Regions from separate parts of the Homo sapiens genome. Here regions 1 and 3 are each linked to region 2. Evidence: fine-mapped expression QTL. A gene starts in region 2. Each other region holds a variant in brackets. All regions are shown on one strand. Distances are from middle to middle. Region 1 has its middle 15 kb from the start of LINC00892. Region 2 holds the start of CD40LG (CD40 ligand). Region 3 overlaps ARHGEF6 (Rac/Cdc42 guanine nucleotide exchange factor 6).

The links. PIP is the estimated chance that this variant, and not a neighbour inherited with it, causes the effect.
Region 1: its variant is fine-mapped to the expression of CD40LG in whole blood (TOPMed, PIP above 0.99). The same link has a PIP of 0.9 or more in blood mononuclear cells and lung.
Region 3: its variant is fine-mapped to the expression of CD40LG in whole blood (TOPMed, PIP above 0.99).

The regions. Positions count from the first base shown.
Region 1 is chrX:136,620,176-136,628,365 of GRCh38, reverse strand. No RefSeq gene overlaps it. Among named protein-coding and RNA genes, the nearest start is that of LINC00892, 15 kb to the left of the region's middle. The variant G/C (reference allele first, on the strand shown) is at 4,450.
Region 2 is chrX:136,643,685-136,651,874 of GRCh38, reverse strand. It overlaps CD40LG (CD40 ligand), which reads right to left and starts at 3,717. Exons shown (of 5, transcript NM_000074.3): 1 at 3,471-3,717; 2 at 1,478-1,609. The coding sequence starts at 3,626.
Region 3 is chrX:136,698,957-136,707,146 of GRCh38, reverse strand. It overlaps ARHGEF6 (Rac/Cdc42 guanine nucleotide exchange factor 6), which reads left to right. Exons shown (of 22, transcript NM_004840.3): 9 at 117-239. Among named protein-coding and RNA genes, the nearest start is that of CD40LG, 55 kb to the right of the region's middle. The variant G/A (reference allele first, on the strand shown) is at 3,855.

The DNA.
Region 1 (8,190 bases), 24 kb after region 2:
TTTCTCTGGCCTTATTACTGAGAGCCAAGAGCCCAGCTGAGTGCCTCTCCTGGGCAACCCTTAGAGGATGGATTATTGCTCAACCCATTGAGATTCTCTGTTTCTGGAAGACTGGGGTAGGTGAGGGGAAAAATCAACTCATGGTTTCAGCCTGGGGACTTGATTGTATAATACCTGCACAGAAACCCCTCTTTTAAATAAAATTCTGAAAAAGCATAAAAGTAATTTAACAATATTACCAAAAAAGGAGAAAAGGAATACAATTACCAATTACTCAAAAACCTACCTTTCTAACATAACTATTGTTGTCATATTTCCTTCTTAGTCTTATTTTTATATATTTTTTTCATGGTTATAATAATAGAATACATGTAATTTTTGCATCCTGCTTTTTTTCACTTAGCCTTTCCTAATAAGCGTTTTTCTATGTTGCCTCATATTTTAATAGCCACTGTTTTAGAAGGCAAGATGATAAAATATTTCCCTTTAATGACATCACATCACTGTGAAATTGTGTTTTTTCTCCTATTTCTCTGCAATAGATACAAGGTTAAGAGGTTCAAGATATGACTTCTGTCCTCAAAGAGCTTTTACTTTTTCTGGCAGGGATAGTCATTTCTTCAAAGACCCTTAAGTTGGAGCTGCATGAGCCGCATCAAGTTCACGAGAAATGGAGTATGTATGAGTACCACTGGATGAGTCATTTTTAGTGACCCAAGTCTCCCACCCTCAAACTTAGATCCTATATTGGCACCTATCACCTACATGACCTACTCCCAGCTAAAGAGGTGTTTCAGTGGCCTTGATGTGGGGGTTGTGTGTGTGTAAGCCTCTCCCACATCCTTTTAATCTGGTTGTTTGGTTTGCTGGAGAGTGTGCCCCGGTGGGTTTACACCCCACCCCCGTGGTAACCAATTAAGAAGATTCTAGCAACTTGGAGGACATCAAGTTAAATCCCAACATGAGAAGCAGAATCTTTCTGACACTAACTGGCTCAGCTGATGGAAGTGTCACTGAGACTCTATAATCCTGATAAGAATGACTGCATTTTGTCACATTGCTGAAAACCTCTAACCCTAAGTTTTACTTAGAGGCCAGTTAATGCTTAGGACTCTTTGAAATCTATAATTTGTGGTTGTTGATTTGCACAGGAATTGCCAACCCAAACCATTTGCATCATGGGCCTCTTTTATTAGGATGGACCCTTTTTAGTATCCTAGATTACATGAAAGAAGCATGTTCTTGATACAAGGAAATCTTCATCACTGGCTGCCAAACCTCAGGAAATAACAAAGCCACCAGCACCATTGTGTTCTCAAGCGAAAAAAGTCATTTGAACATTTGGTGTCTTTGGGTATACTAAGAGCTATTCTGACTTCTAAACAGGGTACTAGCCCTTTAGCCAACATTCTGCTAAAAAAAAAAGACCTTTCTGTGCTTTTCTAACTGACTCTACAGTATGTTTTTTAAACTGAGCCCAAGAGTTATTGACTTTGGTCAATAGTTTCCTAGATCAATTGAAATAAGCAGCTTTTCCTGAGGAACCAAACTCAAGCATCCCAGGTACTGGAATGTGGGCAATGCCAGATGATTTGAAAATCAAAGTTTAAACTTTGAATTATAGAAATACTGTGAAAAACAGGTGTCACAATAAGGCCCAGTAAAACATCCTTCAATGCCATTCCCTACAGTTCGTCAGAGGGAATCTTGAATACTCAAATTTTTTCCTCATCTTTAAGAACAGCTTCTGTTCATTTCCCTGCTAGAAGGTGGCAGATGGTACTCCACCCTTACAAAAAGTCTCTCCCATTTGAATTGCCTACTTAGCTTCCTCAGTAAAATATTTCAGTAGTTTGTCCACAGCCATTAGTCTTCCTCTAATTGCTCTGACTCAAATGAAGATTGACTTTGTGGTTGGAAATTTCGTGACATTACCAAGAAAGCTCAGTCAGTACCAGGACTCTTCTCAAACTTCTATTTGCAAACCCAAGGAAAGACCTTTAGCAGGAAAGGACAAAATACTGATATGCAAAACAATTATGTGATGTTTGGTAGAACTCAAATGATTAGTGAACCTACCCTTCTCTCCGTTTTTTTTTTTTTTTTTTTTTTTTTGGTCAAAGGAATGAGTTCAAGGAAATAGTGAGGGTACCTACTGATCGTTTGTGTTCATGAGGGACAAACAGGTTCTGGAAAATTAAAAGCCAGGCAATATCAAAAGTTTATGTTAAGCTAGTACTTTCAAAACTATTTCTCACTAAAGCTTTATTTTTGCTTTTCTCCTTGCTCTGGATCATTCTTTGCTGGAAGTGGAAATATGGCTTTCACAGCTAGAAAGCACTTGAGGACATCATCAGCTGTATTAAGGATCAAACTAGAAGCTAAGAGCAGCATGGGGTCCAGGCATGATCCTGTTTCTAAATAGATGATAGGGATGGGGCAGAGTGGGTAATACATCATAGACTCATGAAATGTGAAGGTGAAGGAGATCTTAGAGCAATGAAACTTATTAAAAATGCAGATTCTAAGACTCTAACACCAGAGATTCTGATCCAGTGGATCCGGGCTGGGAACAAATACATCAGGTGATTGTGCTGCCAGTGGTCCATGCTGGGCTACTTTGAGAAAGCCTACCTTAGCAGGATGGTTATAGAGCCCATTTATTTTACAAAGTAGCAAACAGAGGCCCTGAGACATTGGTCATTTGCTCAAGGGCCTTGAGAACAAAATTAAGATGCCAGGTTACTCAGCCCAGGGCCTTTTCCTCTCTGTGATGGTCCTAGTGAGAGTCCTTTTTCCTTCCGGGCTTTCCATGTGAGTGTGTACCAATGGCCAAGGATTCCAGTTGGCCTGTTGTTTCCAGCTACAGCCAGTATTACTGCTCACTAGAAGCTTTAGACTGAATGGGCTGTGCTAGCAGGGGAGGGGCACCCACAAGAAGGATCTGGCCCCCTCAGCTTCATTGTTCCCTGTAAACTGACTGAACTGCAACACAGACTTCCTTGGGGCCAGAGTGCCAGGCTGTAAGGACAAAGTGTCATTTCTGTTGGCTAAGCCAGCCAGCTATTTCACATCCAGTTACACATCTGGATCCCTGGGCCCTCGAATATATCTATTCTGTTGAGAACTTTCCCCAGGAGACCCGACCCCTTGACATATACACAGTATTAAAAACTTGAACATCTGGTCACCTTACCTAGCCAAAAACAAAAATATTAATTGACCACATATATATAGCGTATTAGTTTGCTAGGGCTGCTGTAACAAAGTACCATAAACTGGGTGTGGCTTAAACAACAGAAATTTATTGTTTCACAACTATGGAGACTGGCAGTACAAAATCACAGTGTCAGCAGGATTGGTTCCTTTTGGAGATGCAGAGGGAGGGTCTGTTTTATCTCTCTCCTGATGGTTTGCTGACAATCTTTGGTGTTCCTTGGTATGTAGATGCATTCATAACGATCTCTGCCTTCATCTTCACATAGCATTCTCTCTCTCCCTCTCTCTCTCTCTGTCTCTGTGTGCGTGTGTGTGTGTGTGTGTGTGCGTGTGTCTGTATGTGTGTTCGTGTCTGTCTCCCAATTTCCCCTTTTTATAAGGACAGCAGTTATATTGGATTAAGAGCTCACCCTACGCCAGTGGGGCCTCATCTTAACTAATTACATTTGCAATAACCATATTTCCAAATGAGGTCATATTTTGAAGTACCAGGGTTAGGATTTCAATCACCAGTAGTACTAAGGATCAAACCAGAAGGCAAGAGCAGCACAAGACCCAGACATGATCCTGTTTCTAAATAGATTATGGGGATGGGGCAAAGTGGATAATATGTTATAGACTCATGAAATGTGAAGGTGAAGGAGATCTTAGAGCAGTGGAACTCATTAAAATGCAAATCCCAAGACTCCAACACCAGAGATTCTGATCCATTAATTTCAAGGGACACAATTCAATGCATACCATGTCATCTTTGTTTAGTCCAACAATAAATAGGGATGAGCAACTGGTAGTGGAGGTGAGACGGGTGAGGAGTGGAGAGAAGAGCAGAAGAGTAGAAACAAACCTGAGTATAGGGCTGCTTAGTGAAGAGAGAAGTGTTTGTTAAGCAAGAGAACTCAGATGTCAGGGAGGAAATTCCATCAATTCAATATTAAAATTATGCACCATATACCTTTTATTTGCAAAATTCAACATTTCATAAGGACAGATGAATGTTTCGTGAGAACGCTCCACGTGCATGAAGTAATATTTTGTTGACAGAATGTGCTCTTCTGAATCAAGAAAAAAAGATAATCATGCCCTTTTTTATTCTTTGGAGCTTTCTAATATAGAGTTCTCCAAATCTCCTAACTTTAAGAGAAAAATAGAAAACATTAGCTTAGAGATTTTTTTTAAAAGATATAGAGGCATTTTACTACTGAGAACGTAAATAGAGATGTTATAGACCTC[G/C]TATTCAGATGCTCCAAAGGTGTGGTTTGCTACGGCTAACTTTGAAAAATAGAGGATATAGCTCACGGGTAGCCTGGCAAGAGGAGGGAGGACATGTAATCAGGAGCGGGATGGAAAAAGCCAACTTGGTGATGACAAAATTGTCTTGAATCAGTCCTATAGTTCACTAACAAAGATTAGGAAGCTATTTTTAATAGGAGAGAGAGGGGCCACCCAACAGACACTGCCAAGATCACCCACTGTTGTGGTTCAGGCTAGCCTCAGGCTTAGGGTACTACAGGAGAACTAGCAAGTGAGTGCTGAGTCACCTACCCAGAGTTTCTAGAAGACAGAGGTGGGCAATTCTGGGGTTTGATGGTCACAGAGTGTGGCTTCTGGTGGGCCACAGTCTAACTACTCCAGATCTCAACAACAGTGAAAAGAGGAAAGAGAAATGCTTGGTGCACGGAAGTTATAACTTGAAGGTTTAAACTTCAACTTAATGCTTCTGTTTTGTCTATTTAGTGGCCTATCCATGGGCCAATTTTTATTCACAGGTTCATTTATTACTTGAAGCAGCATAATAACTTACGTAGCATTTACTATGTGCCAGGTGCTAAGTATTTTACAAATAATAACTCACTTAATCCCCACAACAGATGAGGAAATGGAGGTACACAAAGATGAAGTAACTTGCCTAAGGTTATTGTGCTAGCAAGTTGGCAGAGCCAAGATTAGAACCTTAGCAGTCTGACTTCAGAGTCTATGCTCACCATCACTGCAACTGCATACTGCCTACTCACTGCATGTGAAGGAAGATCAGTGGAGGCAAGCAAGTCCACTATCCAGAACCATCAGGGGAAACACTCTTCTAGAGAAGCTCATTTTTCAAGTACAATCAAGGGCTGCATAATGACATTTTGGTCAACATGGAACTGCATATACAAAGGTGGTTCCATAAGATTACAATATCGTATTTGTTTACTGTACCTTTTCTATGTTTAGATATGTTTAGATACACAGACACTGAGCACTGTGTTACAATTGCCTACAGCATTCAGTACAATAACATGCTGTACAGGTTTGTAGCCTAAGAGCAATAGGCCATACCATATAGCCTAGGTGTGTAGTAGGTGATACCATCTAGGTTTGCGTAAGCGCACTTTATGATGTTCATACAATGAGGAAATTGCCTATCAATATACTTCTCAGAATGTAACCCTGTCATCAAGCAATGCATGATGCTAGTTGACGGCCAGTCTTTTACAAGTGGAAACTTCCAAAGTATAGCTGTTGTTGGAAAGAAACTTCCTGAAATGTTATCTCCCAACAGAAGACTCTAAACATGTGGTCATGTTTTCTTGAAGATTATATGTTTCATTATGAACATTATTCATGCATTCACTCCACATTTATTAAGTGCTTGTGATGTTATTGTAGATGCCAATGGTGACTGCACTGAACTCTAGCTGAATGAGCTTTTTGGTCACTATAGGACAACAGAGCCCCAGTGTTCTACCTGAATGCTGCAGCATACCGGTTGACATGTCTTCAGCTGGATTGGCTCTACGATTAGATAGACCTTAGGTGATTCATGTTCAAGTGACTCTACCACTTACCAGCTTCGTGACTTTAGGTAAGTCAATGAGCTTTAGTTTCCTCATCTGTCAAAGGAAGATAATTATGTCTCGCCTCAACGGTTGTGAAGACCCAAATGTCATAATGCAGGGAAAGCACAGTGCCTGGCCCCTAGTGAACCCTGTGATCACAAACCAAGCAGAAGATTCCTCTCATTCTACATAGGAAACCCACTCTTCTTAAGCATTGGGTATCACCTCAGGGGCTTTGGTCTTCCCAGCTCTGTTCTTTTGCGGCTGCATGCTCAAGTGCAGCTTCTAAGCTATTGCAGAAGCCTTTCCCCGTCCTGAGCCAAGCAAACCTAGGCCTGTCTGAATGGGAGAAATAACATGGGCTAGTGGTTGACATTGCTCAAGCATTATGCCTTGTACAAAGTAGGCACTCAATGAGTGGCAACTCGAATGAAGTAAACAATAAGCAAAGTGGTTGATTCACCTGGCTTGCCTCACCCTCACCCCGCCTTGGTTGTGCCTCACTTTCTCCGCCTGTATGTGAGCCTAATAATACTTGCCACCTACACACCTTATTGCTGTTGTGAGGGTTATCGTGGGCAAAGGCCATAGAGTGCGGGGGATCATTAAAAGGTGTACATCTAACAAAGTGGAAACCTTTGAACTTTCAGAGCTGTGGGGTTGTCATGCGGAGACCTGTTATCTTCACCTTTCAAACTCCTCTTCAGCATTTCAATTATGTTAGAAGTGAAAAGTGTTCCCTTCCGGCCTTGAGCCAGTGCATACATATCCAGGAGAGTGTCTTGGCCTCTAGGCAGCCTGTACTCCAGCTTACCTTTCACCAAAAGTCCACTGAAGTGAAATAAGCCAGGCACAGAAAGACAAACATCGCATGTTCTCACTTACCTGTGAAATCTAAAAATCAAAGCAATTGAACTCACGGAGGTAGAGAGTAGAAGGATGGTCACCAGAGGCTGGGAAGGGTGGTGGGTAGAGGGGGAGGTGGGGATGGTTAGTGGATACAAAAAATAGTTAAAGAATGAGTAAGACCTATGGTTTGATAGCACAACGGGGTGGTTATAATCAATAATAACTTAATCATACATTTAAAAATAACTAGAAGAGTGTAATTGGATTGTTTGTAACACAAAAGATTAATGTTTGAGGGGATGGATACCCCATTCTCCATGATGTGCTTATTACACATTGCAAGCCTGTATCAAAATACCTAAAGTATCTCATAAATATATATACCTACTATGTAACCACACAAATTAAAATTTTTTAAAATACATACATAAAGTTCATTGCATGATGGTGACTAACTGACCCACACTTCCTATCACTGCCACATCTGCTAGTTAATGTTAAGGGAGAACAAAGGGTAGTCTGTTTGCCCCATAAAAAATTGTTTGGGTTCTGAATTGTCAAAGGCTATGGGGAAGGGTGAATGATTTATTTTCAGGAGACCTTGCTTAAAAATCATTTCAGTTCATTATTATTTCATTCACACCACAAATATTCATCAAGCACCTATTGTGTTCCAGACACTGTTCTAGGCACTGAAAGATACAGGAGTGAACAAACGGACAAAGTCCCTGTCCTCATAAACATTATTGAGAGAGTAGACAAACAATAATCAAATAGATAAATTAACAAGATGCTTTCAGGTAGTAATAAAGATTATGAAGAAAATGAAATGGGATAATTGGTTAGATGACCAGGATGGGGAAGATGGTTTCACTGGAATAATTAAGAAAGGTTTCACTTAAACTAGCTCATTTCACCCTGAGGCTTGGAGATGAGAGGTCACAGGGCTTGGGTGTCCATTTTAGAGATTTCTCACCCTATCTGAGATTCTCTTCAAATTTTAAGTATGACCTAAAGCGGTTGCACCCACACTACTCATGCCTTATTGCGAATTTGGTGTCAAATCCTTTTCACTCCATCCAGAGGGATGAACCAAAACGTGGACTGAGGAACCGAGTGGGGTAGAGGATGAGGTGGGGTAGAGAAGGAACCCTTCGCAGCCACTGTGTCATCGTTTCCGCCTTCATATCAAGGTGCTTTACCCCTCAGGAACAATCTTTAGATGACGAGTGACTAGAAATTGGTTTGAGAGATTTCCAAAGCTGTAGATCTTGTGATCACTGTTGCCATACCTGCGTTCTTC
Region 2 (8,190 bases):
GCTTATCACATAATTGTAGAATGTCAGAGCTGATAGTGCCCTTACAGATAATCTGTCTTCTCATGTTATAGATGACAAAACTGAGGCCCAGAAAGGTGAAGTTATTTACCCAAAGTCACATAGCCAAGCACATTCAGTCTGTTATTTGGATTATTAGCCATTGTTTTGAAAGTGCCTTTATTCACATTTAAACTGGTAACATCTTCCAATACTCTGTAATACTGGCCCAAATCCTCGAAGAACCGAAGAAACTCAAATCATTTTCCTAGCTGGCCAGTCTTGCAAAGAAAGGGTTTAGGAGTTTCATCTAAAGCCTAGATTAGTGTAAAGAACCTGAAAGCAAGCAGCGGATTTGAGCCACATTCTGTTCTCCGTAGGTGACTCAGGAATAAGCTGTTAGAGTCTTCACTAATGAATTAAATGGCACCTCGGTGACAGTACAGGAGGGCAGAAATAAGATCAGAAATAAGATCTTAACCCTTTTACGCCTGCATTAAATTACACATCATCTATATGTGAGAACTAATTCCTGTTGGTTTACCCAGATACCCACCCACCTGGCCCAGAACTGTCCTCAATGTGGAGTGCTGCCTCCTAGAAATGACCCCTAAGTGAGCCGAGGCCCAAGGGTATTTGACTCAGTGTTCTGAAAGGGACATAGGCAGAAAGAACTCTTGATGTTCTGCCTCAGGAGAAAGAGCCCCTAGACCCTATGTCTGTGATGATGGAATTAATGTAAAGGTTCTAAAAATTCTTGTTTTAGGTATCTGTTATAAGCCACAGTCACTGCAGTGACTTCATGCTAGCTACCAGCCTGGTGGGCTAAAAGGCTTTGAACCCTCTGTGCCTCTGGTCATGACCGGCCATAGAGTGGGCGGGCTTCATGAGCAAGTGATATTATATGGAGTCTGGTTTGAGCGACACTGAGAATGTCTATTACTTATTCCCTGCACCTCTCTCCCCAGTAAAAGGGAAAGATCTCACTGTCAGGACACCTAAAATTCCATCATCAGAGAAGCACCAGAGACTGTTACCAGTCTTCAGGTGTCCCTTCACTTGTGGCCTGCTGCCACGGCAGCTGTTGACGGCTATTGCTTCCCTGGGAAATGGGGATCAGACTCTGGGTCCCCAGTGCGAGAGCATCAAGGTTTGGATGGGGAGACACAGCAATGCAAAAACCAAGCTTGGTGGACTTCATCATTTTGCCTAGTGGTAGCTGCATATGTAAGCTGACAAATATGTGTGACTGTGCCCCTAAGGGTGTATTTTCCCCAGAGAGTGTCTTTGTGTTTTTTTTTTTTAACCCCCACACACACACCCATGTATGTGTGTATATCTGCATGCATATATATGTGTGTGTGTGTCTGTGTGTCTGTGTCTATAACCAATCTTTAAACATTGGCATTGTCAGTTTCCCGATCTAGCAAATGTAGTAAAATATTTCAATGACACTTTTACCAGTAATTAAGCTGCTTACCTTCACAAAGCCTTCAAACTGGCTTTTAATCTCCTCACAGTTCAGTAAGGATAAGGATCTTTCTCCTGTGTTGCATCTCTGTATCGTTTTCATGAATACAAAATCTTCATGAAGATTCCTTTCATCTTCTATCTATTTTGGAATAACAAGGATATGATAAATGTCATTCGGAAGGAGAATACAGCTAATGATATCTGCCTCTACATTCATTTCCACGGCATCAACAAGAGGAGGACTTTCAGGCATAAATGGAGAATAATAAGTTATTATATTGGCTGATTGCTATTTTGTATTTGCAGTTTAAAAATCTATAAAAGACAGCAATTAAGATGTCATGTTATCAGAAACTCCAGGTAGAAATCAGAGCTATTCTACTAAATGTTCACTACAAAATGCATATTTTTTCAACATACTATAGCAGCAATATTCTGTAATTGTCACATTTCTCATTGCTTCAGTAATGATTGGTCATTATAAACATCAGCCTAGAAAATAGTTTTCTGCAGAGCTAATTTGCCCACTTCATTTTAGTGTTTGTGATGCAGTGCTTTATAAAAAGAAGTTAATTTGCAATGTGTCAGTTAACGAGTTCTAATTACATCTCTCTCCCTTTTAACTTTAGTATTTGTAGAAAACATTTGCATTTTTAAAGAAATCATCTTTTATCCTCAAAGTAACAAGATATTTTATTTTCCAATGTCTTAGAATAATTAAATGTACAGAATTCACTTGCATTATCAACTAATTTTATACCATTTTCTTGCTTTAAGAGTAGATTTTTTAGATTCAAAACAAGATTCAGTTAGCTGGCAGCTTCTGCTGTAATTAAGAGCACATGTAAATAGTACGGTAAATATCAGTCCACTGAGGTCACTATTGCCCCTTTAGAAGCTAGGCCTATGTCCATACATTTGATTGACAGAGCACATCAGGCCAAACACAAATAACCAACCAGACCAGAAGCCCCCTCTTTTGTCAGCAGTGAAACCTAATATTTGGATAACCCAGTGGATGACTTCAGCCCTCACTACCTCACCTTATCCTGTTAGAAAAATCTCATGACATTAATTCTAGGTCCAGATCCTAAGAGAGGACACTCAAGTATCCCTGATAAAGTGCAATCATCCAGATGCTTTCTAGCCACAGTTCCTGCATCCAGAATTTTAGGAACAGCCAGAAAACTAATCAACTTTCTCCTTTACATCTATGATTGGTATTTTGTCAACACCAGCCAATTATACTCCTCAGTGGAAGTGAAAAAATACATGAAAACAAAATAAGTCCTGATGGTTTTCTTTTCCTAAGAATGCAAAACAGCCTACTAAGTTACTCTGCTCTTTTGTTCCTGCAAGTCTAACCATTTAAAAATGTAAAACATCTCAGAGGGAGACTGAGCATCCTGCAACTACAATCAGTGCTTGTGAAGAATTACACAGAAAATGCTACTTTTACTAAAAGACTGCAAATTCTGGGACTTATCCATGTCTATGTTAATCTGAAGCATTATGAAATTTTAGATCAAATTGACGCTCTTCTTGCCTAGCTGGAAATTTAAAAGAAAAAAGCTGTCTCCATAAAAAAATAGCTTACTTTTAAAGCAGAACTTTAGCAAATAATTATAGCTAGTGCGTACATAGTGCTTACTATGTATCAGACCCCCTCCTAAGCTTTTTACAAGGCTAAACTCACTTAATCTATGAAATGGACACCAATACCATCCCCATTTCTCAGATGTGGAAACTGAGGCACTTGCCCCAGGATAACAGAGATGGTATGGGCAGAGCCAAGATTTGAACCCAGGCAGTCTGACTCCAGATCCCAAGATCCTAACCAGAGACAAGAATATGAGACTTCATTGACTAGGCAACAAACATTATGCCACAAGACCATTCTTCTATTTGGTTTCTACCATCATCCATCATTTGGGTAGAACCAACCTATGAATTAGTAAGGACCCCAAATTTAGTTAATAAAGGCTTGTGGTTCATCTTACCTTGTCCAACCTTCTATGAAGATACACAGCAAAAAGTGCTGACCCAATCATCTGGGTGATAAGAAAAACAGTAAGTAAATACATAAAAATTTTCATGCTGATGGGCAGTCCAGTGGCCGCAGATCGGGGAGAAGTTTGGTTGTATGTTTCGATCATGCTGTGTTAAAGTTGAAATGGTATCTTCTGGCAGAGAAGGTGGCAGAGGCAGCATGAGAAGACTGTCAAAGTGGCCACCTTACTCAGGATTAGTTAAGAGCGCACAATCGTTGCAGCCCACACTTCCTGGAAAATGTGCTTCGTAGTCTTCTCTCCCAGCAAAAACGTTACGTAAAGGTTTTTTGTTTTTTTTTTTTTTTTTAATTATACCCATATCATTCACTTCCAGGCTTTCCTTTTTGTAAGTAAAGAAGAAACAAGTTTCTTCTTCCATATATTCATTCTTGCCTTGAAATGTCATAGACTTCTTAACAGACAATGGCAGTATTTTCCTATCACTGTCTAACTTTTTGGGTTCACCAGTTTCAAGGAAAGTGACAAATTCATCCACCAGCAATAGACTTATTTCAATTTCAATCTTACTAATACGAAGCGGGAACCTGGTATATGGAGAAAGAAACACATGTCAACAAAAGTTTGGATTGATTTTATGACTGGTGTCCCATCAACTAATTGCTTCTCAGAACTTTACTTCTTTAATCACTAAACTCAATGAAAGCCTGGCAGGTTTTCAGGTCAAGTCTACATGGCATAAAGCAAAAAAAGCATGCTGATGGTTATTAAATAAAATTTAGCTGGAAAGATAATGCAAGAAAAATAAATTTTGCAAAGGCAAAGATAAGTAGGGTCTTGAGGGAAATCAGGCCAAGACTCTGGAATTGAAGTTAAAGTAAAAATCGTGACTTGACGTAGCTAAGCTGCCTGTGTACACTGTTCCAATCCATTAGATAATTGTTGATGCTGATGTAACAGTTCAGAATAGGGAAAATAGGCTGCAGTTAAGAGATCTGAATTCTAGTCTTTGCTCTACCAATAAATTGCTATGAGCCTTGGGCAAATCACTTCATCTCTTTAGACCTCAGTTTCCTCATACCCAAAGGAGGCACTTGCACCTGTCTTGCTTATCCTGTAGGTTGCTGTGAAGATCTAATAAAGATGTGCATGGAAGAAATTTGAAACACGTTAAGCAATAAACAATTCTCATCCTGAATTTTTTGGAATTTATTTAGCCTAAGACATGAGTTTAACAAATAATTGCCAACTCCTTACATGTTGGTAAAAACCAAATGAACAATAACAATATTAAAAACACCTTAAGTTTTGACAATGAATTGAATCACTGAAGTGTGTAGGATTACACATTTCTGAAGGGCTTTTGCATCATCTTATCAGATTTCCTTCAAACTAAAAGCAGCTGTGGAAATCCCTACCTCACATCCAAACCTGGTCTAGAAACCATGATAAAATTGCTTTGATGATTCCTATAAAATTGTTTTGAGAGACAAATAGGAAACGTAAAAACTGCTCTGATAGGCATGCTATCTATATAGTTAGCACCTGCTTTCTTCCCCTCCCACGCCCCAGCATCCTGTCCTGGGCCCAGATCTATGTAGCTTTTCACTACATCTGCCAAGTAGGTGGCTTCGATGCACGTGATGAACTTTGATCAGTCAAGTCAGAGGCTTTGGTTCTTAGACAAGTAACCTTAGTTCCACTGAAGGAAAATTATCATGAGAGCCAAAATGGGCTCAAGGACTTCTGCACTGTCAGTTTTATACAACTTGAGAGTGCCAGAGCTGCAGGGGCCCTGCAATCAGCTCAGCCAAGACCCGAGGGAGGGGAGGCTGAAGGTCACAGATTTGTTCACGTGACCAACTTGAAAAAACAGTTGTTGTCCAACCTCCTTGCCTCAACTTCTTGATCCCCAGCCTCCTACAGTCTGACTTCTGCCCACAATATTCCCCTGAAATTGATCCCACCATTATTAGCTCAATAATAGTTTTGGCTGAATACTTCTTAGAGTTTATTTTTAGCGACCTCTCTATTACTCTGTTGACCTATTATCCTGTTGTCATCTTCCTGAATGCTCTCCCCACTTGAATTCTATATCACCCTATTCTTAAGGGCTTCTGCCTCTCAGAATCCTTCTTCATGTTATCTTCTTTCCTCTTTGTATCCCTTAAAACTTTGGTATTCCTTCTCTCTATTTCCTTTCCTTCTCCCTTCTCCTCTCCTCCCCTCTCTTCTTGTTCTCCATGGTTTCATTGGGTGATTCATGGGTTTCATGAACTTTCATGGGTTTCAATCTCACCTTCATTGTGATAAATCTCAAATCTATAACTGAAGTCCTGAACTTCAGAGTTGTAAGCACAGCTACCTCTGAAAATCTCTACTTGGATATCCCAAAGCCATCTTACATTTGGTATGCTCTAAAATTAATTTATCTCACCACTCTAATTCCAATCCAGACCTGTTCTCCCTTAAGATTCTCCGTATCTCTGTGAATGGTCCCACCACCCACTTAATTGCCCAAGTCAGAGATCTGGGATCCATTCATGATTTTTCACTCTCTCTTGCCCCAGATTGCCCCAATCCCAGTGGCTTCTTCCTCCAAAAACCTTGGTTGCCACCACTTCTCTCCATGGCCCCTGCCATCATCCTATTCCAGGCCCATATATCCTCTCCTTTGTAGATTACTGAATTGTACCATCCTAACTTATCTCCCTGTTTCTCTTTCTGTCCCACCCCATCCATCTTTCACACTGACAGCAACTGACTCCAGAATGCCCTGCTTGTACCTCAATTGTTGAAGCCTTCTCTTTCTCTCATCCTTCTGCCTGGTCCTCTACCATAATGCCACAATTGGCTACCTTTCCAGCTTCCTCATTTGGGCTGTTTTTTTGATTTCTGATTCTGCATCAGAAGTTCTTTGTCTCAGAACCTCTCATGCCTGTCTCTCCCTAACAGGGAGTTGGCTCCGTTTTAATATCTTCAGCTGCCTAACACGTCCAAAAATGATTATCAAACTTAGTTTCCAAGAAATGTATACATGTATAGGAGTGCATGCAAGTGTCTATAGCCAAAATCAAATATTGACCATCTTTTTCTAAGTTTACAGAAAGAATTAAGTTAATGGATTGAAGTCTCATTTTTCAGTTATTTTTACACAGAATTTTCTTAAATATTGGTCACCCTTTTCTACTACTACTTTTCTGCTAGCTAGTGATTGATTTGTAGCAAATATCAAGGGAAAAATAAGAAAAACAATGGATCATACTTCAACAGTTTGTTTTTGATGTGAATATGCCTGTGGTTGTGATTTTATATTGATAACCCAGAACACAGTCATAATTTCTGCTTGGAAAATCATTTCCAGTACATATGAAAGAGTTAAATATAACAGTATTTTGTTTGTTGTATGAAGGGCCTCCTAAGGGTTCTTTTCCCTGAATATACCTGAAAAGCTCTAGACTAGAGGAAAGGGTCTCGATTCTTAACATGGCAGATGAGTTGACCCCTGCCCACATTTCTCTCCTCATCGTCTACGACTCATTAGGTCTCAAACATTTTAAGCTAGTTTTATTTCCTGAAATGTGCTGTGCTTATTCATGTTATTTGTGTGCCAAGGCTAATTCTCTCCTGTCTTATCTATTAATGTTTTTTGTTTGTTTGTTTGTTTGTTTGAGACAAAGTCTCACTCTGTCGCCCAGACTGGAGTGCAATGGCACGATCTCAGCTCACTGAAACCTCCATCTCCCAGGTTCAAACGATTCTCCTGCCTCAGCCTCCCAAGTAGCTGGGACTACAGGCTTGCGCAACCGCGCCTGGATAATTTTTACAAAATTTTTTTAGTAGAGACGGGGTTTCACCATATTGGCTAGGCTGGTCTCAAACTCCTGACCTCATGATCTGCCAGCCTCGGTGTCCCAAAGTGCTGGGATTACAGATGTGAACCACAGCGCCCGGCTATCTATTAATGTTTAAGTGAAATATTCTGTTCCAGCTGACAAGGTGCTCTCTTCTGTACTTAATCTTTTTGTTGTTGTTGTTGTTGAGAAGGAGTCTGGCTTTGTCACCCAGGCTGGAGTGCAGTGTCATAATCTTGGCTCACTACAACCTCCACCTCCCGGGTTCAAGTGATTCTCCAGCCTCAGCCTCTTGAGTAGCTGGGATTACAGGCGTGCACCACTCTGCCTGGCTAATATTTGTAAATTTAGTAGAGACGGGGTTTCACCAAGTTGGCCAGGCTGGTCTTGAACTCCTGACCTCAGGTGATCCACATGCCTTGGCCTCCCAAAGTGCTGGGATTACACAGGCGTGAGCCACTGTGCCCTACCTCTTCTGTGCTTAATCTATCATAGCATTTGCCACATCATATCATAATGGACTTGTCTGATTTTTCTACCATTAGCTATTAGAGGAAAAAGATAATTAAAACAAACAAACAAACAAAAAAACCCAGAAATTTTGGTTCCTGACACATTGTAAGGAGTTAGTAAATGTTTGCCAAATTACTAAATATTATTTTAAAGAGATAGAAGGGGAAGTTGTAAAATATTCTAACCTGGGAGAATAGCGCTTGGCTAGCTTTTCTAGCAATACATGTCAGAATATATTTACATTTTCTTCAATTCCCTTAATTCTCCCTCTTTCCTCTGGGTCAGTTCCATTTGTTTATTTTGGTCCTTTTCATTATGTTGCTAGTTTTTCTCAAATGCTTGGC
Region 3 (8,190 bases), 55 kb before region 2:
TTTAACCTTGGCAAAATATTCAGAAGGCTTTCATGCTGCCAGGTTTAATTGGAATAATCTTCCTTTGCCTCCTGTTTCCTATTTTACATTCTGTGTTTTGTCCATTTTGTTTACAGGTTTCCAGAAAACCAGCACAAAGTAGGAGGTTGTCTACTGAGTCTCATGCCTCATTTTAAATCTATGTATCTGGCTTACTGTGCAAACCATCCTTCAGCTGTAAATGTGCTCACTCAGCACAGGTAAATAGTTAACATTTCCCCAACTTTTGCAATGAGATCCTTTCTTAGGACCACGTCATTTGGAAATCCAAGGTCTTCAGTTGGACTCTTGATTATCCCTGTTCATGATGCCAGGAATTGATTCATTGTTACATGGATTGATTGTCCATTAATCCAATGAATAAATTCTTGAGCACCTACTATGTGCAAGGCCCTGTACCAGCTGATGGGGATACAGGAATGAACAAGGAGGAGGAGGTCCTTCCCCTCATTGAGCACAGAATCTTGAGGGAAATGCAGATATTAAATTAAATGTTGTAAACGTGTCATATTATGAAACAGTAAATTAAAAGGGTTCTGTGAGATAACATTAACATGATATCAACTTAGTGGGATGTGAAGAAAGGGTCAGGGAGGGCTTTCCTGAAGCAAAATTCTATTTCGAGCCTATCATTTAGCTTTCCCCTACCCCAATGAATGTTTTTTCTGAGTTGCTGACACATAGCTAAACTGTGTAGCTTCATCTCTTTTTGCCTTCCCTAGTCTGCGTAGAGAAAGTTTTAGGCAATGATGTAGCTACAAAGCAGGTGTGAGCTGTGTGACAGATACTTTAAGCAAAGGGCTCTGATAATAATTATACATGAATATAAGTTGCTTCCGATTCATGATGAACAATAGAATAGTGTCTCCTTTAAGAATACGAGTCCTTGCAAGGGACCTAGATAAGTGTTACACCTCTCCTGCCATCCTTAGCTTCTGACTACCCACCCCTGACACATTCACTGACACATTCATCTGGGCCAGAAAACTGTAGGACAGGCTTAGTGACAGAATTTTACCTTTGAAGTCATATGCTGGAAATCCAGGTGGGACAAAAGCAAGTCCAACATATAGAGACTCTTGACTTAACTTGGAGACTAAGATGCAGAATGGACATGGATTCTGGAAGCTGTTCAAGACTGAAAATAATATTCTCTTAATCTGACCTAGATTTGAGCTCCCAGAGCTAGGCTAGAACATTAGTTGACACGAGCCTCCAGAAATGACAGAAATTTTGGTTCTTGTCCTGGTTTATTAAGGTGCAATATTTATTGGCTTTACAAAGATGTTATGTAAGGACATTTTAAAGGTTGAACGCAGTAAGTCCTGCTTGAAGGTCAATTTTATTCCTCTGATAAATTTTGAACTCTTATGGAATAGCAAATATGGAAATTGGAGTTTAAAGAAAGAGAGGTCATGAACCTGGCATTTTTAGGCAAGTGGCTCAACTGCTTATAGCTAACATTAGCTAGTAATAGCACTGACGATGTGCCAGGCACATGATGTAAAAGCCTATGAGGGAGTTATTATTATTACCATCTCTGCTTTACAGATAAGACATTGGAAGGCTTAGGTTAAGTAATGTGCCCAAGAACTCATAGATCTTAAGTGGTTGAGCCAGAATCCAGGTCTGTCAGACTTCTAAAAAATATTTTTATTAAGACATATATTTTATCCACAGAAAGAATAATGTAAATGCAAATTTAAAGGATCACAATAAAATGAGCACCTGTGTATCTACCACCTGGCTTAAGCAATAGAAAGTTACCCTTTTCTTTTCTCCCTCCCCTCCCCTCCTCTTCCCTTCCTTTTTTTTTTGACAGAGTCTTGCTCTGTCACCGAGGCTGGAGCACAACTGCAACCTCTGCCTCCCAGATTCAAGCGATTCTCCTGCCTCAGCCTCCAGAGTACCTGGGATTACAGGCACGCACCACCACGACCAGCTAATTTTTGTAGAGATGGGGTTTCACCATGTTGGCCAGGCTGATCTCGAACTCCTGACCTCAAATGATCCGCCCACCTTGGCTTCACTTGACGGAGCAAGACTCTGCCTCAGACAAAAAACAAAACAAAAACAAAACAACAACAGCAACAACAACAAAACAAAGTCACTGCACCAATTTATTTTCTCACTATCTGTGTATGAGGGTTTCATTTTCTCCACACCCTCACCAAACATTTGTTATTGTCAGTCTTTTTGATTATAGACATATTAGTGGATATGAAGTGGTTTCTCATGGTGAGATTGATATGCATTTTCCTCAGGAATAATGATATTGAGCATCTGATATGGTTTGGTTCTATGTCCCCACCCAAATCTCATCTTGAATTGTCAACCCTACATGTCGAGGGAGGGACCAGGTGGGAGGTGACTGGATCATGGGGGTGGTTTTCCCCAAGCTGTTCTTATGATAGTGAGTTCTCACGAGATCTGAAGGTTTTATAAGGGGCTCTTCCCCCGTCGCTCTTGCTCTCTTTCCTGCCACCTTGTGAAGGAAGTACTTGCCTTTCCTTCTCCTTCCACCATGATTGTAAGTTTCCTGAGGCCTCCCCAGCCATGTGGAATGGTGAGTCAATTAAACCTCCTTTGTTTATAAATTACCCAGTCTCAGATAGTATCTTTATAGCAGTGTGAAAACGGACTAATACAGCATCTTTCATGTACCTACTGGAAGTTCGTATACCTTCATTCAAAGAAATGTCTATTCAGATCCTTAGCCTGTTTTTAAATTGGGTTATGTGTATTTTTATTGAGATATAATTTATATAACATAAAATTCACGATGTTAAACTACGCAATTCAGTGGTTTTTAATATATTCACAAGGTTGTGTAGCCATCACCACTGTCTAGCTCCAGAACATTTTTATTACTCCCCTCTAAAAACCTGTCCCCAGTAACAGTCACTCATTATTAATGGCTAGTGATGTTGCGCATCTTTTCATCTTGCTTATTGGCTATTTTAATGTCTTCTTTGGGAATATGTCTATTTAAATCTTTTGCTCATTTAAAAAATTCAGTTAGCTATCTTTTCATTGTTGAGTTGCAACAGTTCTTTATATATTCTGGATATTAGATTCTTACCAGATACATGTCTACCTTGGAGATACTGTGGATCCAAACCACTACAGTGAAGTGAATATTGCAATGAAGTGAGTCACATGAACTTTTTGGTTTCCAAATGAATACAAAAGTTATATTTACACTCTACTGTATAGTCTATTAAGTGTGCAATAGCATCATGTCTAAAAAAGCAAGGTACATTCCTTAATTAAAGAATACTTTATTGGCTGGGCGTGGTGGCTCATGCCTGTAATCCCAGCACTTTGGGAGGCCAAGGCGGGCGGATCACCTGAGGTCAGGAGTTTGAGACCAGCCTGACCAACATGGAGAAACCCCATCTCTACTAAAAATACAAAATTAGCTGGGCATGCTTGCACATGGCTGTAATCCCAGCTACTTGGGAGGCTGAAGTAGGAGAATCACTTGAACCTGGGAGGCGGAGGTTGCCGTGAGCCGAGATTGCGCCATTGCACTCCTGCCTGGGCAACAAGAGTGAAACTCCGTCTCAGGAAAAAAAATAAAAAAAGTTTGGAGTATTGTAAGAATTACCAAAATATGACACATAGACACAAAGTGAGTACGCACTTTTGGAAAAATGGCACCGATAGACTTGCTCAACACACGGTTGCCACAAAACTTCAATTTGTAAAAAATGCAATTATCTGTGAAGTTCAATAAAGTACACTGCAATAAAATGAGGTGTGCCTATATATGATTTGAAAAAATATGCTTTCATTTTTTGGGTTGTGTTTTC[G/A]GTTTCTTGATGGTGTTCTCTGAAGCACAAAAATTTTGATTTTACATTTTAATTTTGATGATGTCCAATATGTTGTTTTGTTGTTGTTGCTTGCACTTTTGGTGTTGTATCTAAGAAATTATTGCCTAATCCAGGTCATGTAGATTCATGCCTATTTATTTTCTTAGAGTTTTATAATCTTAGCTTTTATATTTAGGTCTTTAATTAATTTTGAGTTAATTTGTGCATATGGTTCCATTTTATTCTTTTGCATGTGGATATCTAGTTGTCCCAGCACCATTTGTTGATTTCTATTCTTATAAATTGAAGTTGTGTTTTATGGCCCATAACGTGGTCTATCTTGGTGAATGCTCCATGTGAGTGTGAGAAGAAAGTGTGACTGTTGTTGAATGAAATATTCTACAAATGTTAATTAGAACCACTTGACTGATGGTTCTATTCAGTTCAACTGCCTGCTTACTAATTTTCTGCTGCTGGATCTGTCAGTTCCTGATAGAGAGATGTTAAATTCTAACCACAATAGATTTATCTCTCTTTTCAGTTCTATCAATTTTTGTTTCATGTATTTTGATACTCTGTTGTTAGGTGCATTCACATTAAGGATTATTATGTTTTGTGGGAGAATTTGCCCTTTTATCATTGTATATTTTTCCTCTTTATCTCTGATAATTTTCCCTGATCGGAAGTCTGCTTTGTCTGAAATTAATACAGCTAGTCCAGCTTTCTTTCAATTATTGTTAATAGGATATATCCTTCTTCATCTCTTTACTTTTAATTGTCATAGATTAAAATATATGTTGTAGACAAAATATATTTGAGTCTTGTTTCTTAATCCACTCTGACAGTCTCATTCTTTTAATTGGCGTATTTAGAAAATTCACATGTTAAGTGATTATTTATATATTTGGATTAGTATCTGCCATGTTTTCTATTCATTGCAATTGTTCTTTGTTTCTTTTTTACCTCTATTTTTCCGCCTTTTCTGTTTTTAGTAAACATTTTATTTTCACTTTTCTCTTAGCATATAATACTCCCTTTAAAAAATTTTACCAGTATCCCTAGAGTTTATGTTATGTATTTACAGCTAAATCTAACAACACTTTCACATAACACTACACAATTTCATAGGTAACTTATAACAGAATATTCTCAATTCCTCCCTCTTATCCCTTATAATATTATTGTAATTCATTTCACTTTTCTATAAAGTAAAATCACCCAATACACTGTTGCTATTATTACTTTGAACAGTTATCTATTAAATCAATTAAGAATAAGAAAAATGAGGCCGGGTGCGGTGGCTCGCGCCTGTAATCCCAGCACTTTGGGAGGCCGAGGTGGGCGGATCACGAGGTCAGGAGATCGAGACCATCCTGGCTAACACAGCGAAACCCTGTCTCTACTAAAAATACAAAAAATTAGCCGGGCGTGGTGGTGGGCGCCTGTAGTCCCAGCTACTAGGGAGGCTGAGGCAGGAGAATGGCGTGAACCCGGGAGGCGGAGCTTGCAGTGAGCCAAGATGGCGCCACTGCACTCCAGCCTGGGTGACAGAGCGAGACTCCATCTCAAAAAAAAAAAAAAAAAAAAAAAGAAAAATGAAATATTTTGTTTTACCTGGATTTATTATTTTTGATACTTTTTTCCATGTATCCAAGTTTTGTTTGTTGTTTTTAAATCTATATCACTTTCCTTCTCTCTGAAGAACTTCTTTTAACATTTTTGCAAGGCAAGTCATCTGGCCACAATTTCCCACATTTTTTGTTTGTTTGAGAAAGTATTCAGAATTCTAGGTTGTCATTTTTTTCCTTCAACACTTTAAATATTTCATTCCATTCTGTTGTTTGCATGGTTTATAATGAGAAGTCTGATACAATTCTTATCCTTGTTCCTCTACAGGTAAGGTGTTTTTCCCTGTCTGGCTTCTTTCAAGATTTTCTCGTTGCTTTTGCCTTTCTGCAGCTTGAATATGAAATGGCTAGGTGTAGATATGTTTTGCTATATATCCTGCTTGGTGTTCTCTGAGATACCTGGATCAGCAGTTTGGGGTCTGTCAATAATTTTGCAAAATTCTTGGCCTAATAGGGTCAACATTTTAAATATTTCTTCTCTTTTCTCTTTCTTTTCTGTCTATATTCCCATTATGCATGTTACACCTTTTGTACTTGTTCCACAGTTTTTGTGTATTCTCTTCCATTTAAAATTTTTTTCTTTACATTTAAGTTTAGGAAATTTCTATTGACATATCTTGAAGCTCACTGTTTCCTCAGCTATGTTTAGCCTATTTGTTAGACTATCAAAGGCATTCTTCATTTCTGTCACAGTGTTTTTTATTTCAGGCATTTTCTTTTGATCATTTCTTAGTGTTTCTATCACTCTGCTTACATTACCCATCTTTTATTACATGTTGTCTATCTTTATCTGTTAGAACCTTTAACATATTAACCATAGTTATTTTGAATTCCCTAATAATTCCAAAATTTGTGTCATATCTGAGTCTGATTCTAAAGCTTGCTTTGTCTCCTCAGACTGTTTTTTTCTTGCCTTTCAGCATGCCTTGTAATGTTTTGTTGGAAGGCAGACATGATAAATTAAGTAATAGGAACTGAGGTAACTAGGTGTTTACTGTGAGGTTTTCTGTTAATCTGACTAGGATCTTGCCTGTGTTTAATGTTTGCTGTAGCTGTAAGTATGAGGGGCTTTAGATTTTTTTTGTTTCCTTTCCTTCTCTCTTATTAACTTTGGCTTTCTTTCTTTCCTTTCTTTCCTCTTTTTTTTTGTCTCACTGTCTCCCAGGCTGGAGTGCAGTGGCGCGATCTCAGCTCACTGCAACCTTTGCCTCACAGGTTCAAGCAATGTTCATGCCTCAGCCCCCTGAGTAGCTGGGATTACAGGCATGTGCCACCACGCCTGGCTAATTTTTTTGTATTTTTAGTTTAGACAGGGTTTCATGAAGTTGGCCAGGCTGGTCTCAAACTCCTGACCTCAAGTGATCCACCTGCCACAGCCTCCCAATCCTGCTGAGATTGCAGGCCTGAGCCACCGCGCCCTGCCTATCTTTGGGTTTCTTAAGAACTCCTTCTTAAATAGAGTCTGTGTCTTGCAGATCCCTCCCTGTAATCCACTGTTATTATATATTGGGGCCCTGTCAATGTGGTGATAAGGTGTTGGGGAAGGGGACACATTCTATAATGTTATGAACAAGTCTCAATTTTTTAGTAGACCTGAGTCCCTGGAAATTGACCTCCAGAAGCAATTCTTAGCCTTTTTTAGTCCTCTCACATATGGCAGGAAGATGAGAGAGGGCTGAAGCTGGCCTATTGTACCTTCCTCAGGTCAGATAAGACTTGGCAACATAGTTTCCCTTGGAAGACAGGCCTTTGTTTTGGAAAAGGTTCTGGGATTATTTCAAAATGGATGCTCCACCCCGCCCCCACTCCTATCCCAAAACATGAGAGGATTTTTCTCTGATCTTCACTATGGAACATTTTTGGGTTTTTGGATCCCAAACCCACAAAAGCATTGCCCCGCCTCAAGATGGTTCTCCAGGAGCTTTTAAATCTCAAGTTGGGGTCCACATTCAGACTCCAGGAATTCATTAAAATCACTATGCAAGTGTTCCTGCCAGTTACTGGGTCCAGTGGCTTCTGCTTTAGGGAAGCTAATCTCAGCTGTAATTCTCTGTATTCACTGTTTCTCCAGATTTTGAGGTGGTGATTTTTTCTGTGATCTCAATTCTCAGTAAATCTAACAAAAGTCATTGATTTTCAGTTTGTTCAGTATTTTTTTAATTATGACTATAGTGTGATGACTTCCAAGCTCTTTCGATGTCAGAGCTGAAATCAGAAGTGCTTTAATGATTTTTTCACTATATTTTATTTTTTTATTATTTTAAACGTTTTTGTTATAAATTTTCTCTATAATATTTCACTATATTTTGGGGTGTCTTTTAGTGGTTACTCTAAAACTTTCCATATATATCTTATCAGAATGGACTTCATTTTTTATGCTAACTTAATTCTAGTTATATATAAAAATGTGACTCCTGTATAACTGTTTCCTCTTCCCTTTTTGTTATTATTATTATAAATATGAACTCCATATACACAATAATACATGCTATAATTGTTATTTAATTTTATGTCCATTAATACAACTGAGAGAAGAAAGGAAAGGAAAAATATATTTATAGTGTTTGTTATATTAACTTTCTTATTTACCATTTCTATTTCCCTTCATTTTTTCCTGTGAATTTGTGTTACTATCTGGTATTATATTCTTATTCCAACAGACCTTTGCTCCCACCTTTCTCCTTCATGCTGTGGTTTTCAAATATATT